2 separate regions of the Homo sapiens genome follow, and region 2 is linked to region 1. The links come from fine-mapping of genetic effects on gene expression. Tissue or cell type: cerebellum. Region 1 holds a variant in brackets; the other region holds the start of a gene. All regions are shown on one strand. Distances are between the middles of the regions.

What was found. PIP is the estimated chance that this variant, and not a neighbour inherited with it, causes the effect.
Region 2: it holds the start of YWHAH-AS1, and the variant in region 1 is fine-mapped to the expression of YWHAH-AS1 in cerebellum (GTEx, PIP 0.92).

What each region holds. Positions count from the first base shown.
Region 1 is chr22:31,752,497-31,760,591 of GRCh38, reverse strand. DEPDC5 (DEP domain containing 5, GATOR1 subcomplex subunit) reads right to left here and starts at 6,573. Exons shown (of 43, transcript NM_001242896.3): 1 at 6,428-6,573; 2 at 5,613-5,730; 3 at 1,959-2,046. The coding sequence starts at 5,670. It also overlaps the pseudogene RN7SL20P. RefSeq lists a silencer at 6,499-6,808. The variant C/T (reference allele first, on the strand shown) is at 4,687.
Region 2 is chr22:31,941,457-31,949,559 of GRCh38, reverse strand. YWHAH-AS1 (YWHAH antisense RNA 1) reads left to right here and starts at 4,194. Exons shown (of 3, transcript NR_171018.1): 1 at 4,194-4,327. It overlaps YWHAH (tyrosine 3-monooxygenase/tryptophan 5-monooxygenase activation protein eta), which reads right to left and starts at 5,025. Exons shown (of 2, transcript NM_003405.4): 1 at 4,740-5,025. The coding sequence starts at 4,826. LOC124900477 (a long non-coding RNA gene) reads right to left here and starts at 4,726. Exons shown (of 3, transcript XR_007068065.1): 1 at 4,325-4,726; 2 at 3,882-4,060; 3 at 408-2,096. RefSeq lists enhancers at 4,055-4,104, 4,848-5,705, 5,706-6,563 and silencers at 4,425-4,764, 4,835-5,054, 5,065-5,154, 5,435-5,584.

The sequences.
Region 1 (8,095 bases):
CCCGACAAAAGGCAAATAGGTCACTCTGGCCATTCTGTGACTTACAGCACAACAACGGGAGAAAGCTCCCTCAGAAACAAAGAAACTCGGCCAGGTGCGGTGGCTCACGCCTGTAATCCCAGCACTTTGGGAGGCCGAGGCAGGTGGACCACGAGGTCAGGAGATCGAGACCATCCTGGCTAACACGGTGAAACCCCTTCTCTACTAAAAAATAGAAAAAATTAGGCCGGGTGTGGTGGCTCATGCCTGTAATCCCAGCACTTTGGGAGGCCGAGACGGGCGGATCATGAGGTCAGGAGATCGAGACCATCCTGGCTAACACAGTGAAACCCCGTCTCTCCTAAAAATACAAAAAAATTAGCCGGGCATAGTGGTGGGCGCCTGTAGTCCCAGCTACTTGGGAGGCTGAGGCAGGAGAATGGCGTGAACCCGGGAGGTGGAGCTTGCAGTGAGCCAAGATTGTGCCACTGCACTCCAGCCTGGGCGACAGAGCAAGACTCCGTCTCACAAAAAAAAAAAAAGAAACAAAGAAACTCCATACGCACTAAAGGAAATGGACAAATGCTACAGAACCTTTCAGTTGTCATCTCAGCTTTAAAACCAGAAAGAGGCTGGGCTCGGTGGCTCATGCCTATAATCCCAACACTTTGGGAGGCCAAGGCAGGTGGATCACCTGAGGTCAGGAGTTCGAGACCAGCCTGGCCAACATGACGAAACCCTGTCTCTATTAAAAATACAAAAATTAGCCAGGTGTGGTGGCCCACACCTGTAGTTCCAGCTACTCGACAGGCTGAGGCAGAAGAGTCACTTGAACCCAGGAGGCAGAGGTTGCAGTGAGCCGAGGTGGCACCACTGCACTCCAGCCTGGGTGACAGAGCGAGACTCTGTCTCTTAAAAAAAAAAAAAAAAAAAAAAGGCTGGGCGCGGCAAGGTAGCTCATGCCTGTAATCCTAGCACTTTAAGAGGCCAAGGCAGGCGGATCACGAGGTCAGGAGTTCGAAACCAGCCTGACCAACATGGTGAAACCCCGTCTCTACTAAAAATACAAAAATTAGCCAAGCATGGTGGCACGCGCCTGTAATCCCAGCTACTCAGGAGGCTGAGGCAGGAGAATGGCTTGAACCCGGAAGACAGAGATTGCAGTGAGCCAAGATCCCACCACTGCACTTCAGCCTGGGTGACAGAGTGAGATTTCATCTCAAAAAAAACAAAAAAAAACAAAAAAAACAAAAAAAACGGCTCGGTATGGTGGCTCATGCCTGTAATCTCAGCACTTTGGGAGGCCTAGCAGGATGGATGACTTGAGACAAGCCTGGACAATATGGTGAAACCCCATCTCTACTAAAAAACACAAAAATTAGGCCAGGTGCGGTGCCTCATACCTGTAATCCCAGCACATTGGGAGGCCAAGGCCAGTGGATTACCTGAGGTCAGGAGTTCAAGACCAGCCTGGGCAACATGGTGAAACCCTGTCTCTACCAAAAATGCAAAATTAGCTGGGCGTGATGGCGCATGCCTGTAATCTCAGCTACTCGGGAGGCTGAGCCTGTAATCTCAGCTACTCAGGAGGCTGAGGCAGGACAATCACTTGGGGCTGGGAGGCAGAGGTTGCAGTGAGCTGAGATTACACAACTGCACTCTAGCCTGGGTGACAGAGCTAGACTCCATCTCAAAAAAAAAAAAACGAAGGAATGGACCACTTTTGAAAAATTATTTGTTGATCAAATCCTAGAAGGCATGATCATTTTTTTTTAAGACAGGGTCCCTCTATGTTGCCCAGGCTGGTCTCGAACTCCCGGGCTCAAATGACCTACCCACCTCAGCCTCCCAAAGTGCTGGAATTACAGGATTGAGCCATCACAGCATGAGCATTTTGAAAGGCAAAGAGAGCTATCTGCCTTGGACATCATTTGGAAACAGTGAATTGCCCAGTTCCATGGATCCTATGAGACACTCACCTGTATTCATCGTTGGGGTGTGCAATCTCTACAATGTCTCCAAGCTTGATGTGAGGGAACACTTTGGGGTTCACAACTAGCTCATCATCTGAAAGACAATTCAGCCACTTCAAGTAGAAAAACACTCATTAGGTACACTGTATGTTCTCATACTGGTTCCTCACAACCCCATCAGGATGGTATTGCCACCCCATTGACAGATGAGGTTCTATTTTGAAACGAGGCTTACAATGACTAATGGATTCACACAGGAACACCAAGCTACACAGCAGCAGAGTGGGATGGCGCTCAGGTACCTTTGTCTCCATACCCTGTGCCCTTTCTACTACCGCACTGCTTCCAGGGGCAGAGCAGCCCTTAGTATCTGGGAATTAGGCTTCTGGACAGCCTTTTACCCCCTCAAATATTGTGTATCTGGCATATAACAGGAACAAAACAGGCTGGTTCCCACAGATACAGCACAATTCGTTACAGTTATTCAATGTTCAAAGAATTTCCCAAACAGTGTCTTAATGTGACCGTCACAATAAATCTTTAGATCTAACAGGAGTAAGAAAATAACCTCAGAGAGTCCAGGAGCAGTGGCTCATGCCTGTAATCCCAATACTTTGAGAGGCCGAGATGGACAGATCACCTGAGGTCAGGAGTTCAAGACCAGCCTGGCGAACATGGCGAAACCCCGTCTCTACTAAAAATACAAAAATTAGCCAGGTGTGGTGGTGGGAGCCTGTAATCCCAGCTACTTGGGAGCCTGAGGCAGGAGAATCACTTGAACCCGGGAGGCAGAGGTTACAGTGAGCCGAAATCACACCACTGCACTCCAGCCTGAGTGACAGAAAGAGACTGCATCTCAAAAAAATAAATAAATAAAATAAGAGGGATGTGGTTTCATGTTTATCTACCCCTGCCCCTCTACTAGGGATGGGGAGAACTCTATCAAATATTGCAAACTCAGAAGCATAAAGACAGAATGACTGTTTTGCTGTTTTAATTTGCAAGGAAAGACATCACCTTTAATTATGCTAATATCATGACAATTAAGTTTATCTAGATTTCAAATATAATCAGACCCAACAAAAATTTAGCCTAGTAAAATGAAACATTGGCTTACTCCCAAATTTTTTTGTTTTCTTTTAGAGATAAGGTCTTGCTGTTGCCTAGGCTGGCGTACAGTGGCTATTTACAGGGACAATCCCACTGCTGATCAGCACAGGAGTTTTGACCTGCTCTGTTCCCAACCTGAGGTGGTTCACACTTCCTAAGGCAAGCTGGTGGTCCCCCACTCCTGGGAGGTCACTATATTGATGCAGAACTTAGTGCAGACACCCAATCAGCATAATGTACTATAGTCTGGAACTCCTGGGCCCAAGTGATCCTCCTGTCCCAGCCTCTTGAGTAGCTGTGACTACAGGCATACACCACTGCACCCAGCAATCCCTAATTTTATTTGCTATGTTTCCACTGACAGTTTCACGACAAATGCTCTTTGGAGCTTCCTCCCTAATTTACATAGTCTGAATTAAGGTCCCTGAGAACATATCCCCTTCTGCTTGGTTTTATCATTTCCTTTTTGCATGTCTATCTTACCAAACTGAAAACTCTTTAGGGACAAAGAACCTTGTGGCATTCATAATCATTACGTCTGGCACAGGTATACACCTAATAAATATCTGTTGGTTGTTTCTTTTTTTTTTATTATTTTTTATTTTTTTAAAGACAGGGTCTTGCTCTATTGCCCAGGCTGGAGTGTAGTGGCATGATCTCGGCTCACTGCAACCTCTGCCTCCTGGGTTCAAGCAATTCTCGTGCCTCAGCCTCCCTAGTAGCTGAGATTACAGGCACGCACCACCACACCTGGCTAATTTTTGTATTTTTAGTAGAGATGGGGTTTCACTATGTTGGCCAGGCTGGTCCTGAACTCCTGACCTCATGTGATCTGCCCACCTTGACCTTCCAAAATGCCAGGATTACAGTCATGAGCTACCATGTCCAGCTGTTAGTTGTATTTTGACCTATAGTCTTGCAGAAGACTGGATACAGCATCTAACTACCTTTGTATTTTATACATAAAAACATGTATTTGTATACGTTGTATATACTGTATCCTTGTATTCTTTTCTCTGCCAAAAGTTATTTGCTTTATTCCACTCCACAAATATTTAGGCAACATCAACAGCATCAAAGTAATAACAATAGACTGTGCATTTTAGCAGAAATTGTAGTTTAAATATAGCAATGCCTGTAGCCTGGTAATTACAATGGCTACATTTATTGAGCACAGAGTCTAACACTCTGCTAAATGCATTACATGTATCACTTTACTTAAGCCTCACAATGCTCTATGATAGAGAAACTATTGTTTTCCCTTTTTGGCAGTCCTTCCCCTCTGGAGGCTTATACCTACATAATGTAGAAGTAAATACACCCTAAAATACAATGTTAAAAAGACTCATGCCAGCGCGGTGGCTCTTGCCTGTAATCCTAGCACTTTGGGAGGCTAAGGTGGGCGGATTGCCTGAGCTCAGGAGTTCGAGACCAGCCTGGGAAACATGGTGAAACCCTCTCTACTAAAATACAAAAAAAAAAAAAAAAAAATAGCCAGGTGTGGCGGCATGCACCTGTAGTCCCAGCTACTCGGGAGGCTGAGGCAGAAGAATTGCTTGAACCTGGGAGGTGGAGGTTGCAGTGAGCTGAGATCACGCCACTGCACTCCAGCCTGGTGACAGAG[C/T]GAGACTCTGTCTCAAAAAAAAAATGCCAATAAATAATAAAATAAAATAAAAAGATTCATTATATTGTTAACTCCAATTTCTGAAGTAAATAATGCTGTTAAGACAGAATGGAAAATTATTCCCTTACAAAAGAAAAAAAAATTATACTAAGTGCCCTTTTATTCTTCAGATTTATGGATTCAAGGCACTAAGGAGAGCTGGGTACAGTGGCTCACGCCTGTAATCCCAACTATTAGGGAGGTTGAGGTTGAGGTGGAAGGATCTTTTGAGCTCTAGAGTTCCAGACTAGCCTGGGCAACATGGGGGACCGTGTCCCAAAAAAAAAAAGAAAAGAAAAGAAAGGAAAAAAAATAGATGTTAAGAGAAACTATTCTAAAGCCCTTCAACTTTCAGATAAGGTACACTAGGAGCTTGCCCAAGGTCACCAGGAAAATTAGAAGCAGAGTAGATACTCAGACTATAGCTCAGTGCAGAATAACATGCTGTATCCTGCTCCTTCTTCCCATGCCTACAAGCCAGGCAAAGGTTCATGCTTTGATCATACCTGCTCTATGCACATCTATGCCACTTCTCTCTCACTCAATGTAAAAACTGATAAACGATTTTAGTTTCTCTTATCTGCCAAACCAGTGCAGGCTGGAATTTTATGGAACATACACGGAAGATTTGTAATTAATAATGCAATTCAACAAATGAAGGGTAGTAAACCGGCAGCATTCACAATGTTCCTTAAAAGTCTGAATGCAAATGCATTAGAAGGGTCCTGCCATCCTCCTATTGTTACTGTATGACAGTTGCTGCTTTAGTCTGTTTAGTCGCCTGTTTAGCCTCAATTGTCACACGAGTCAGTGTGTAATTTCTAGGTATTGCACACACCAGAACCTCAGCCAACTTACAAAACCTCTAAAGACCAATCGATACTGACCACTGCCCCCAAAGCCCTTCTTGTGGATGACGAGTTTGTAGACCTTTGTTGTTCTCATCTTGCACTGTTTTTCCCTTTAGCTGTTCCAAGCTTGGGGCAGAGAAGTCATCTTGCCTCCCTGCCACAGAAATACAAACGAAAAGGTTGGAATGTCAGATTTTTCCTTGCAACCACTCTTTGATTTTAGGCCAGTGAAGATACTGGTGTTCCTCTGCTGTGAAGTGGTGCCAAGTGACTCTCGGAAGAAGTCACTCCTCCAGTTACAAGGAGCGATGGAGAACAAATAGAACCACAGAATCCAGGAACTAAGGGGAATTCGGGCCAGGGGCTAGTCAAACCTAGGAGAAGATATTCTATCACACCCCCATAGGGGAAGCATTGCGCTGAATGGGTGCTCATCACCTTGTCTCCATCTACACCAATAACACCCAAATAGTAAAGAGATCTTAAAAGAGGTTAGCCCACTCATTTTGTAGATGATGAAAGTGTGACTCCGGGCAAGGGACTTGCTCAAGGTCACTCGAGACTTAAGAGACACTCCCACCATTCTCGTTTTGCTGCCAATGTCCTGAGCAAGGCAACCACAAAGAGGAGGAAGGCAGAAGTTCCTTCCCCAAACCTCGGTCTGTGCGAACTCTCAGCAGACCTTCCCTGACTCCGTTTCACAGCTGAGGCCGTTGAGGCTCAGAGAGGGAGAGAGACTTGTCCAAGGTCACACAGCGGAATGGGGATGGAGCCTGGAACTCGAACCTGGGCCAAGGTCCCCTATCTCAAGCCCCCCCAATCCCCAGTCCGGGGCGGGCAGCTCCACTCACCGAAGCTCTAGAGCCCCTTCCCGCCTCTGGCCGGGGCACTGAGGGCTGGACCCTCTCCAGGTTCCCTGCGCCTCCTCCAGATACCCCGCCTACGCCCGCGCGGCCCGCGCTGTTCCGCCCCTAAGCCTGAAGCGCCTACTAGGCCCGCCCCGACCGTGTAGCGCTCACCTGAGAACCCGCGCCGCTCCGGTGGCTCCGCCCCGGGGCCCCGCCTCCTTCCCGCCCTCGCGCCCCCGCGCCGCTCTCGCCGGGCCTCCGTCTCGTCTCGGTGGCCGCACCACTTCCTCATCCGGGGCTCGAGCCGGGGGCGGGGCGTCGTGTGCGGCCTCTTCCTTGGGCCACCTCCTGGCGTTTCCTGCCCTCGAGCACTAGAGCCTCCCGCCCCACGGAGGAAATCCATTTCCTCCTAGTCTATCCGAAGTAGATCCATGGCCACAGAGCTTCGTTTCCGACTCAGTGATCTCCCCACAGGGGAAACGAGATCCGTCAGAGCTCCGTTTTCTGTTATATGAACGAGGTTAATGACTCATGTGGCCTCATTGGGCAGCTAAGAGGCGCCAACGAGAGTTTCTGGGAGGACTTCTGTAAAATGCAAGGGGCTGAGCACGCGAGAGTTAGGGTGATGGCCTCTGCTGGGAAGTGTCCACTTACGGGGGGCTTTTCAAACCCTTGCAAACTCTAAACGACGTTCTGCGCCCCTCAGGTTATTAATAAGAATGGCTGCCGTGGCTTCATAGTCCTTATGTAATCATTGCATCCCTATTACCTGATGGATGCAGGAGGCAGATACTATCCTATTTCACAAACCAGGAAACAGCCTGAGGACACAAAACCCTTCAGAAGGAAGCAAGGACGAATCCTGACCCGTTCCCAGAACGGGGCCTTTAACCAACATCCTTTGGTCATACCCAGGGCACTGCCTAAACTCGCGTCTGTCAGGATATCTTTCTCTCCAAGCAGAAAACCAGAGAGCTGGGTGGGCTGGGTCAGGCTCTGGCCAAGGACTCCTGACAATTGCCAGCTCCGCCTGCTGCCACTGATACCCCCGCCCCCTAGTCCAGTCCACCGTTTCTGACCTGAGCGGCAGCAACTCGATAGGGACTCCCTGCTTCCCCTCTTGAAGCCAGAGAGACCTTATAACTAGAATCGGTGTCTTGGGTCACGCCTCTCCTCTGCTGCTTCTAATCACACTGACTGCTAAATCTAAACGACACAGCACTTGTCTTAAATTTCTTTATATCTTTAATACTAACAGTGCCCATTTCTTACGGATTTGGAAAACTTAAAAATGTTGAAAGAAAAAACATGTTACACTGTAGTGAAAGATTCTGCAGTGGACCAAGGGGACCCTGGGACAGGACAAGCAACGTTCTTAAGCATGGATGCCTTTATGTTGGGACTCAGGAGAAGTTAGGTAAATAATGCAAGTGTTAAGTAATTGCAATTTTTTTGTTTGTTTGTTTTTTTGTTTTTGTTTTGAGATGAGGTCACCCTCACCCAGGCTGGAGTGCAGTGGCATGATCCCGTCTCACTGCCATCTCTGCCTGCCTGGCTCATGCGATCCTCCCACCTCAGCCTCCTAGTAGCTGGGATTACAGGTGCATGCTCAGCTAATTTTTGTATTTTTTGTAGAGACGGGGTTTTGCCATGTGGCCCAGGCTGGTCTCA
Region 2 (8,103 bases), 190 kb before region 1:
TGCCACTGCACTCCAGCCTGGGTGACAGAGCATGACTCCCCCCCCCACCAAAAAAAAAAGTACACATGGACTAACAGCTACCGTTTACCAAGTGCCTAAAAAGTTAAATAAGTTCTAACCAAGCGCAGTGGCTCACGCCTGTAATCCCAGTACTTTGGGAGGCCGAGGCAGGTGGATAACCTGAGGTCGGGTGTTCAAGACCAGCCTGACCAACATGGAGAAACCCCATCTCTACTAAAAATACAAAATTAGGCGGGCATGGCATGGTGGTGCATGCCTGTAATCCCAGCTACTTGGGAGGCTGAGGCAGGAGAATTGCTTGAACCCGGGAGGCAGAGGTTGCAGAGAGCCGAGATTGCTCCATTGTACTCCAGCCTGGGCAACAAGAGCGAAACTGTCTCAAAAAAAAAAAAAAAAAAAAAAGTAAAATATGTTATATAAACTTGCTAAATGTAACACACACACACATAAAACGTTAGGGGTACCCTCTCCGAAACCGTATTTCTGGAAAAGTGTGACGCTACAGTCTGTCACTGATATAAAATCCCAGACAAAGACCAACTAAAGAAAATCCCCACCAAAGAAAATACATTTTTGGTTTCTTTAAGGGAGTCAGTTCCGGACTGTGGAAGTTCTTCTGGGGATAATTCAGGGACCCAAACCCACATGGGGACTACAGTTTCTATTTCAGTGCAAGAAAGCCACGTAAGCTGTTTGCCCACCTGAAAGGACCTTTTAAATTCAAACTATTACAAGAATAATCCAGAGCCTTCTTCCTTCCTCAAAGACGATTACATTTTAAATGCCCAGTTAGTGGGAAACATAGCTCCCTAGTTTTTACATATTTCAAACTGTAGTATCAATGTGGCTTTAAGATTTCCTACTGGTTGGGTGTGGTAGCTCACTCCTGTAATCCCAGCACTTTAATAGGCTGAGGCAGGAGGACTGCTTGAGGCCAGGAGTTTGAGACCAACTTGGGTACCATATAGAGATCCTGTCTATACAATTTAATAATTAGCTGGGCACGGTGGCATGCATCTGTAGTCCCAGCTGCTCAGGAGGTTCACTTGAGCCCAGGAGCTCAAGGCTACAGTGAATTATGATCGTGCCACGACTGCACTCCAGCCTGGGTTCCAGAACGAGACCATCTCTTTAAGAAAAAAAAAAAAAATACTAATCACACCTCAAAATCCTCCTACTCTCTGTGACACTGATCTGTCTCACCTGGGGCAGTCAGCTGTGCACTTTTACACAGCACCTGCTCATTTCCCCACTTCCCAGAATCTCACAGTTGTTGCAACAACAGCCTTTTGCCAGTGGTTGGGCCAAATGCCCCTCCTCTCCGACTCCTGTTTCCTTAAACTGTAGTTTTGTTTCCTGCACTTAAGATTTCTAGGGAGCCGCTGTGGCTCAGGCCGGTTGCCCTGGCACTCGGGGAGGTGAGGCTACACGTTCGAGGCCAACCTGGTCAACACTGATTAAAAAAAAAAGATTTCTATATATATATTCTGCAGGTACTTTAAACGTGTTTCTGCCCGTTTTCTGTCAACACTGTAATCAACTGGTGTATCAGTGTTAAAACACAATGCTAGCCCAGTAATTTTTACATTTGATAACTTTACAGTTACCATCTATGTTTTAATATAAAATAGATGACTTAGGGCCATAATACATGATGAAATTATGTCTGTCTATGAATATCCACCAGAAATCTATCTGGTTATTTTCCCTCTTTCCTTAAATCACTTAGTCTTCTGGACTAACATTTAATCCCACTTTATAGGTTTATTTCAGTTATCAAATGGTATTTACAGAGACTACGAATTGTGTAGCCTAGAATTGCCTAGCCTAGAAAGGACTTAGGTTCTAGAATCTTTCACAATATTTCTTCCCACTATTATACTCTATGCAAGCTGGTAGGTATGAGATAGAGCTTGAAGATACTCCTTTATGCTTCACTTCAGAAACATTTCTTGCTTCTTCAAATTATGGAGAGAAGCAGGGAAGAGAAGTTCTCAACAGGTTTGAGGCAAGACCATTGTTTCCAGTATGCACGATTTTTCTTCAAGCTTACCAACACTGTCCTCCAGGTGACGCTGGTAGAATGAGGAACATCAATCATTACAGGAAGGCAGTATTATCAAGTGAGCATTTTAATTATGAAGGAAACAGAAAACAAGTTAGAAGACTGAAGGCAAAACTGACTTGTTAATAACAGCAACATCACTAGTTTTATACTTCAGAGGACCTAAAGCCAAGATGTAAGTTTCAAGGTTACAGACTGGTGGCATCAGAATATATCCTTAACACATGTGTCCTGCTCCATCCTCCCTACAGCAGGCTACTTACCTGCCCTTCCCCAGCCCTGAAGAAAGCCCAGGTAAACCCAGAGGGTTACTGAAACTTACACCCTTTCCAAAAGCCTTAGTTAAGGCTGATGAGATTAATAACATAGAGACTGAGTCATCCCAGTAACATTAAGAATTTAATCTACAAACACCAAGTTAGCAGGGAAAGTGACCCCTGCCAGTCCCTTCCAATATATTCTTTTTTTTCTTTTAAAGAAAATACCTATAAGCACAATATATTCCATTTAGATGATGGGGGAGAAATGGTTTATCACCATTCTGAGATGGCAGAATTAAAGCTTGGATTGACTCTTCTACGCTGGGTGGCTTTTCCAACTCATTAATTATTTCAAATATAGATATTATAGATTCCTTTGGTTTACAAAAGGCTACCTTAACCCTCCAGAGAAGATCTATGGACACAAGTAGCTTGCTGCAGGAAAGCATTTTACAAGCCTACTAGAAAGCCAGTCTTTTTCTCTGCTCAAACTAGATTTCGTTCTGGTAACATCTCTCCATTCTTGCCTTTTTCCCCCATTTCAAGTTGCCTCAGGTTTCTGATTGTTCCAGAACACACCTTCTAGCCATTTTTCCTTAACCTCCATTTCCCCTTCCTTTAAACCTCGTCCCTCCTTTCTTTTCACCACATTTATTTCCCAAAGGGCTCCGAACACTGCAGTCTTTACGTCTCACTTAGAGGGTGAGCAACCACTTCATGAAAATGTGTGGAGAGGCCTCAGCCTGCATAATCCCAGCACCACTCAGTTACTGGGGAGGAGGGGCTTAAGTGTGACCTGCTGTGGACAGAGGCAGCTTTATCCCACAGAAAATTAAGGTTCAGGGTCCCTTCCAAGGAAATGCATTCGTCAGTCCCATTTTTGTAAAATATGCAAAACTATATTTTAGATTTTCTTTTAAAGGACCCCCTGAATTACATAAAGTTCAGCCTCCAGACCTAGACCGTCCCCCGGTCTGGAAGAAAACCTGCCTCACCACAACAGCATGCTAATAGTGCTCAAGTCAAGATCACCAACAAATCAACATACGGGCAACGGTGTTGCTGGTTTCCAAACACACCCAGTTATGTGTGTAACAAGGACACCAGAGGAAAGGCAACTCTTCAAGCACCTTTCTTACCTGAACAATCCTAAATATTGGCCCCAACTACATATTTCATCTGATATTAACATCAAAAGCCTTCAAATGAGCTTTCCAAATGACTTAAGATTTTAGGGAGCCTTTGTATTGGCAGTTTTTTTTCGGAACTCCCTCCAAAAGGCCAGCAAAGGATACATTTACTATAATCATGGGCAGTAATTCTCAGACTTAAGCCAGCTAAAAATCGCCTGTGAGAGCTGGTTACAATGCAGATGTCTGAGTCTCACCGCCCGAATTTCTGAATGTATAGGTCTAAGGCGGAGTTCAAGGGGATCCTCCCAGGTCTCAGGAGGTTGTACACTGAACATAGGTTGGTGGTCGCAGTTGTTCTACCACTGTGTGACCTTGACGCAGGGAGAGGAAATATTCATTTACAGAAAACGTAAAATAACGTGGAGAGAGAGTGAGATGGTAACCGGAACTCAGAAATGCAGGTGGTGTGTGACCCACGGTATTTTGCTAGGGTGTGGCTGGGCACGACTCATCCACCGGAGAAGCTGCAGAATCGATTTATGAGGGTCTCAGGAATGCAAAGACACACAGATTCGTCTCACCTAGAAGTCACGTTTCATTTTAATCTCCAAGCAGACAGCGCAGCAGCAAACCTGGGGCTGTGGAGTGGGGCCCCACACCCTCCGCCCACTCTCCCGCCCCCGTCCACGCCTAGACTGCAGGAAAGGGGTCTTCGCACACAAAGCCAGACCCCCAGGCGTGGGAAGATGGAACCAGAACAATTCGAACGAGCAGAGCAAAACAGATCGGAATTGCAGACTTCAGGTCGTGGCAGAGAAAACCAGCTGAGACAGGGCGCCACTTACTAGGTGATTCTTTATTCCAAGTTGGGGAACGGAGGAAGACGAGAGGGGGAGCCCCCGGGTCCGGTGAAACGCTCTAGGAGAAATGCGGCTCCTTCGCGTCCCCTAGGGCACCCTCTGCCCCCGGCCGGGTTCCGAACTAAGATGTGGCGACCCCGACCGGCCCGCCCCCCTTCCGGGGCTGCCTTCGCGATCCCGAACTGCACCCTCCCGGATCCCCCACCCTGGGCCCAGCCTCAGGAAGTGGCGGGGCGCCCAGCGGGAGCGGGAAGCGCGGGCTAAGGGCGGGCGGGCGGCCACGCCCAGCCGGGTCGCCGGGTCGCCCATGGCCGGGAGGGGAACGCGCCCGCGGCCATCCCCGTCCCTCCCCAACGCCAGGCCCCCCCCGGCCAGCCGCCCGGGCTCCCGGCGCGCTCACCGCCTTCATAGCGGAGGCCATGTCGTCGTAGCGCTCCGCCTGCTCGGCCAGCCGCGCCCGCTGCAGCAGCTGCTCCCGGTCCCCCATGTCGCTCGCGGCTCGGCCTCGCCTCGCGCCTCACACCGCTGGCTCGCTAGCCCTCCCGCCGGTCAGTCCGCTCCCCGGTCGCTGCGGAGGCCGCCGCCGCGCACGCGCACTGGCTCGCCGGCCGGCCGGAGGCTGCAGGCTGCAGGCTGCAGGCAGCGCCGCCGCTCGCGCCCTCTCGCTGGCTCGCCCCGCGCGCTGTGGCTCGCGCCGCGGACAACGCCGAGGGAGGAGACGCGGCCGCGCTGGGGGATGGGAGGACGGGACGACGCCTGCGCAGTGAGAGTGGCCAGGCCGGGCGGCGGGGAGCGGCGGGAGTGGGAGGGGGGAAGGGCGGGCCGGCCCTAACGGTCTATTTCAAGGTGACGTCACCTACTATAAATAGCCACCGCCGCCGCCGCCGCCCGGCCTGAAAGCCGCGCAGGCGCTCTGCGAGTGCTGCATTTTACCGCCGCAGAGATGGAGGTGGAGAAGGGAAAGCCGGGCAGGAGACTGCGGAGCCGGTGGAGGGGGCGCGGTGATGGCGGCTGCACAGGCAGTGCATTGTCATAGCCCCACCCTGAAACGCGCCACTCCATCCACGTTAGAGATCTGGCTTGAGAAGGGCCCCAAAAGCAAGCAAACATACTGGCGGAGAAGCCGGGAGACCGCGTGCCCCGAGGGGCGGGTCCGCCCAGCCCCGCCCCAGCCGTCCCGCCCGCCCCGAGCCCTGCCTGTCCATGCGTTCTGCTGGGCCACACCTTGTACTGGTCCGGGCAGGATCGAGTCCGACCCTCGGGGACAGCCCCGCTACACAGACACACACAATCGAACCCAACCTGAGACGTAGCCTTGGGCAGGCTGTGCCTTCCACCAGAGGAGGGGACTGGGTGGCCAGGGCGGGACAAGTAATATTCAGGACACATTAGGAGCCAGCCCAGTGCTAGTCCCGTACAAGCATCCTCCTCTTTAATCCTCACTACCCAGCCCACAGTGGGCACAGCTGGTCTCCCCATATTTAAAACGTGGAACCTGAGGAAAAGCGAGGTTAGTGACTTGCTCAGGGTTACGCAGCCTGTAAGTGGTGGGGCCAGGATCTGAGTCCAAACCCAGGCTGAACTTTCTCTTGTGGCAAAGAGCTGGGGTGGCCCAACTGGCTGGTCACTGAGCCCCTCCCAATCCTGGCTGGTATTGGATGCTGAGGGTCCCTTGTGCCAGGCCCTGGACTGGGCTGCCCGACAAGCTAGGAAAATGATGATTAAAACAAGGCCCCCACTTGATTTCAACACGCCAAGGGCAGTGCAGGAGAGGGGGCCTTGGGCTCGCTGAGAATTTTATTGAGCATCTACTGCATGCTCAGCCCACAGGGATAAGCTGGATCTTGAAGGAGAGTCAGGAAAAAGATTAAGGCCTGGGGTACAGCATTGGCAAAGGCTTGGCAGTGACCTGGGAGATGGTGAGAAGAGAGGCCTAAGAATGGGAAGTGAGGTTGGGTAAAACAAGATTACGGAGTCTTTTAAATGCCAGGCCAAAGATTTGAGGCTTCATCCTTAGGTAATTGGGAAGCCATATTTCAGGCCTGGAATCTTGCTCTAGAGAGTAAGACATGTTCGAAGGGAGAAGGGAGGGAACTGGAGACCAGGCCTTTTCTGGACCTGTTTTCCATCTGGAGAATTGGACTTAACTGTTTCAAGGACTTTAGAATAGATATCCACATGCTGAAATGTCAGAGCTGGCAGGACCCTTAGAATCACCCCTGTCTAACCCCTTATCCTGAATAACGGGAAACTGAGGTCTGAGGGAAAGGAGGGGCTGGCCCTAGTTTGCACAGCGAGTGAGCAGAGCTGGGGTCTCCATACCAGGTTTCCTGCCTCCCAGGCCTTCCTCTTCCTGCTATGATGCTGAAACGATCACACTTCTGGGGGCCCATGAAACAGGATTTGAATGTGGGTCTAGGAGGAGGCCACTACCCCAGGCTTCACCATGCTTTGAAGAGTCACTTTTGCTGTTGGAATCGAGGTTAACAAACCAGGCTAATCTTTCCCCTAGTGAATATATTTAAAGAGCATGCTAGATAGTAATGAATCATCCACTCCACCCCCCATAAGGATGGGGTCCCAGTGAGAGATGGGAGGAGGGCCAGCCCTGGATGGGGGGACCTCCTCGGTTCCTTCTAGCTCTTAGAGGGCTTAGAGCCCTTCCAGCTTTTCTGATGAGGTTGGACTAAGATTGATTTCAAAACAGTGAAAATTAGGTAGAGCTGGAGCATTCTAAATAATTGATTTCTGACATGTGTAAAGGACACTCTGGTTCTCCCATGAAGCTTTTCTTCTCACCAAACTTCCTCATCTCCTCTTCCTCACCTCCTACCCACCCATCAGCTCAGTGTGCTCTCACCCTGTCCCTACTCCTCCACCGTGGCCATCAGAGCCCTCCTTGTTGTCAAAGCCAAGGAGGTTTCATAGTGCCCACCTCCCTGGCCCTCTTGGCTGGACTGGGCACGACTGCTCACCCTTCCTTGACCGACTCTCCCAGCTTCCCTTCTGCTGCTCCGGCCATTGCTCTTCTATTTGCTGTATGGGCTTGTCTTCTAGCCTACCCCAAAATACTAGGGTTCCTCAGGGCTTTGTCCCGAGCCCTCTTCACACACTGCCCTATCCTTGGTGACCCCATCCTCATGCACTCTAAGGAACCATCTACCATGTTCCTAGTACCAGGCAAGGTGCTTTGCAGAAACGTGCATTTTTTTTTCCCTCAAGATACCCCTGTAAGGCTGGTCCGATTTCCTTTCCTGTTTTTTTGTTTGTTGGCTTTTGTTTTGTTTTGAGATAGAGTCTCACCCATTCACCCAGGCTGGAGTGCAATAGTGCTCTCTTAGCTCACTGCAACCTCCGCCTCCCAGGTTCAAGCGATCCTCCTGCCTCAGCCTCCCAAGTAGCTGGGGCTACAAGGCGCACGTCACCGCACCCAGCTAATTTTTTCAGAGAAAATTATTTAAACTCTTGTGCCTCATCTGTTAAATGGATTTTTTAGTCTTTTTTTTGGTTTGTTTTTTTCTCTAAGAGATGGAGTCTCGCTCTGTTGCCCAGACTGGAGTGCAGTGGCACAATCTTGGCTCACTGCAATCTCCGCCTCCCAGGTTCAAGCTATTCTCCTGCCTCAGCCTCCCGAGTAGCTAGGACTGCAGGCATGCACCACCAAGCCCAGCTAATTTTTTTGTGTGTATTTTTAATAGAGATTTCACCAGGTTGGCCAGGCTGGTCTTGAACTCCTGGCCTCAAATGTACCTCCTGCCTCGGCC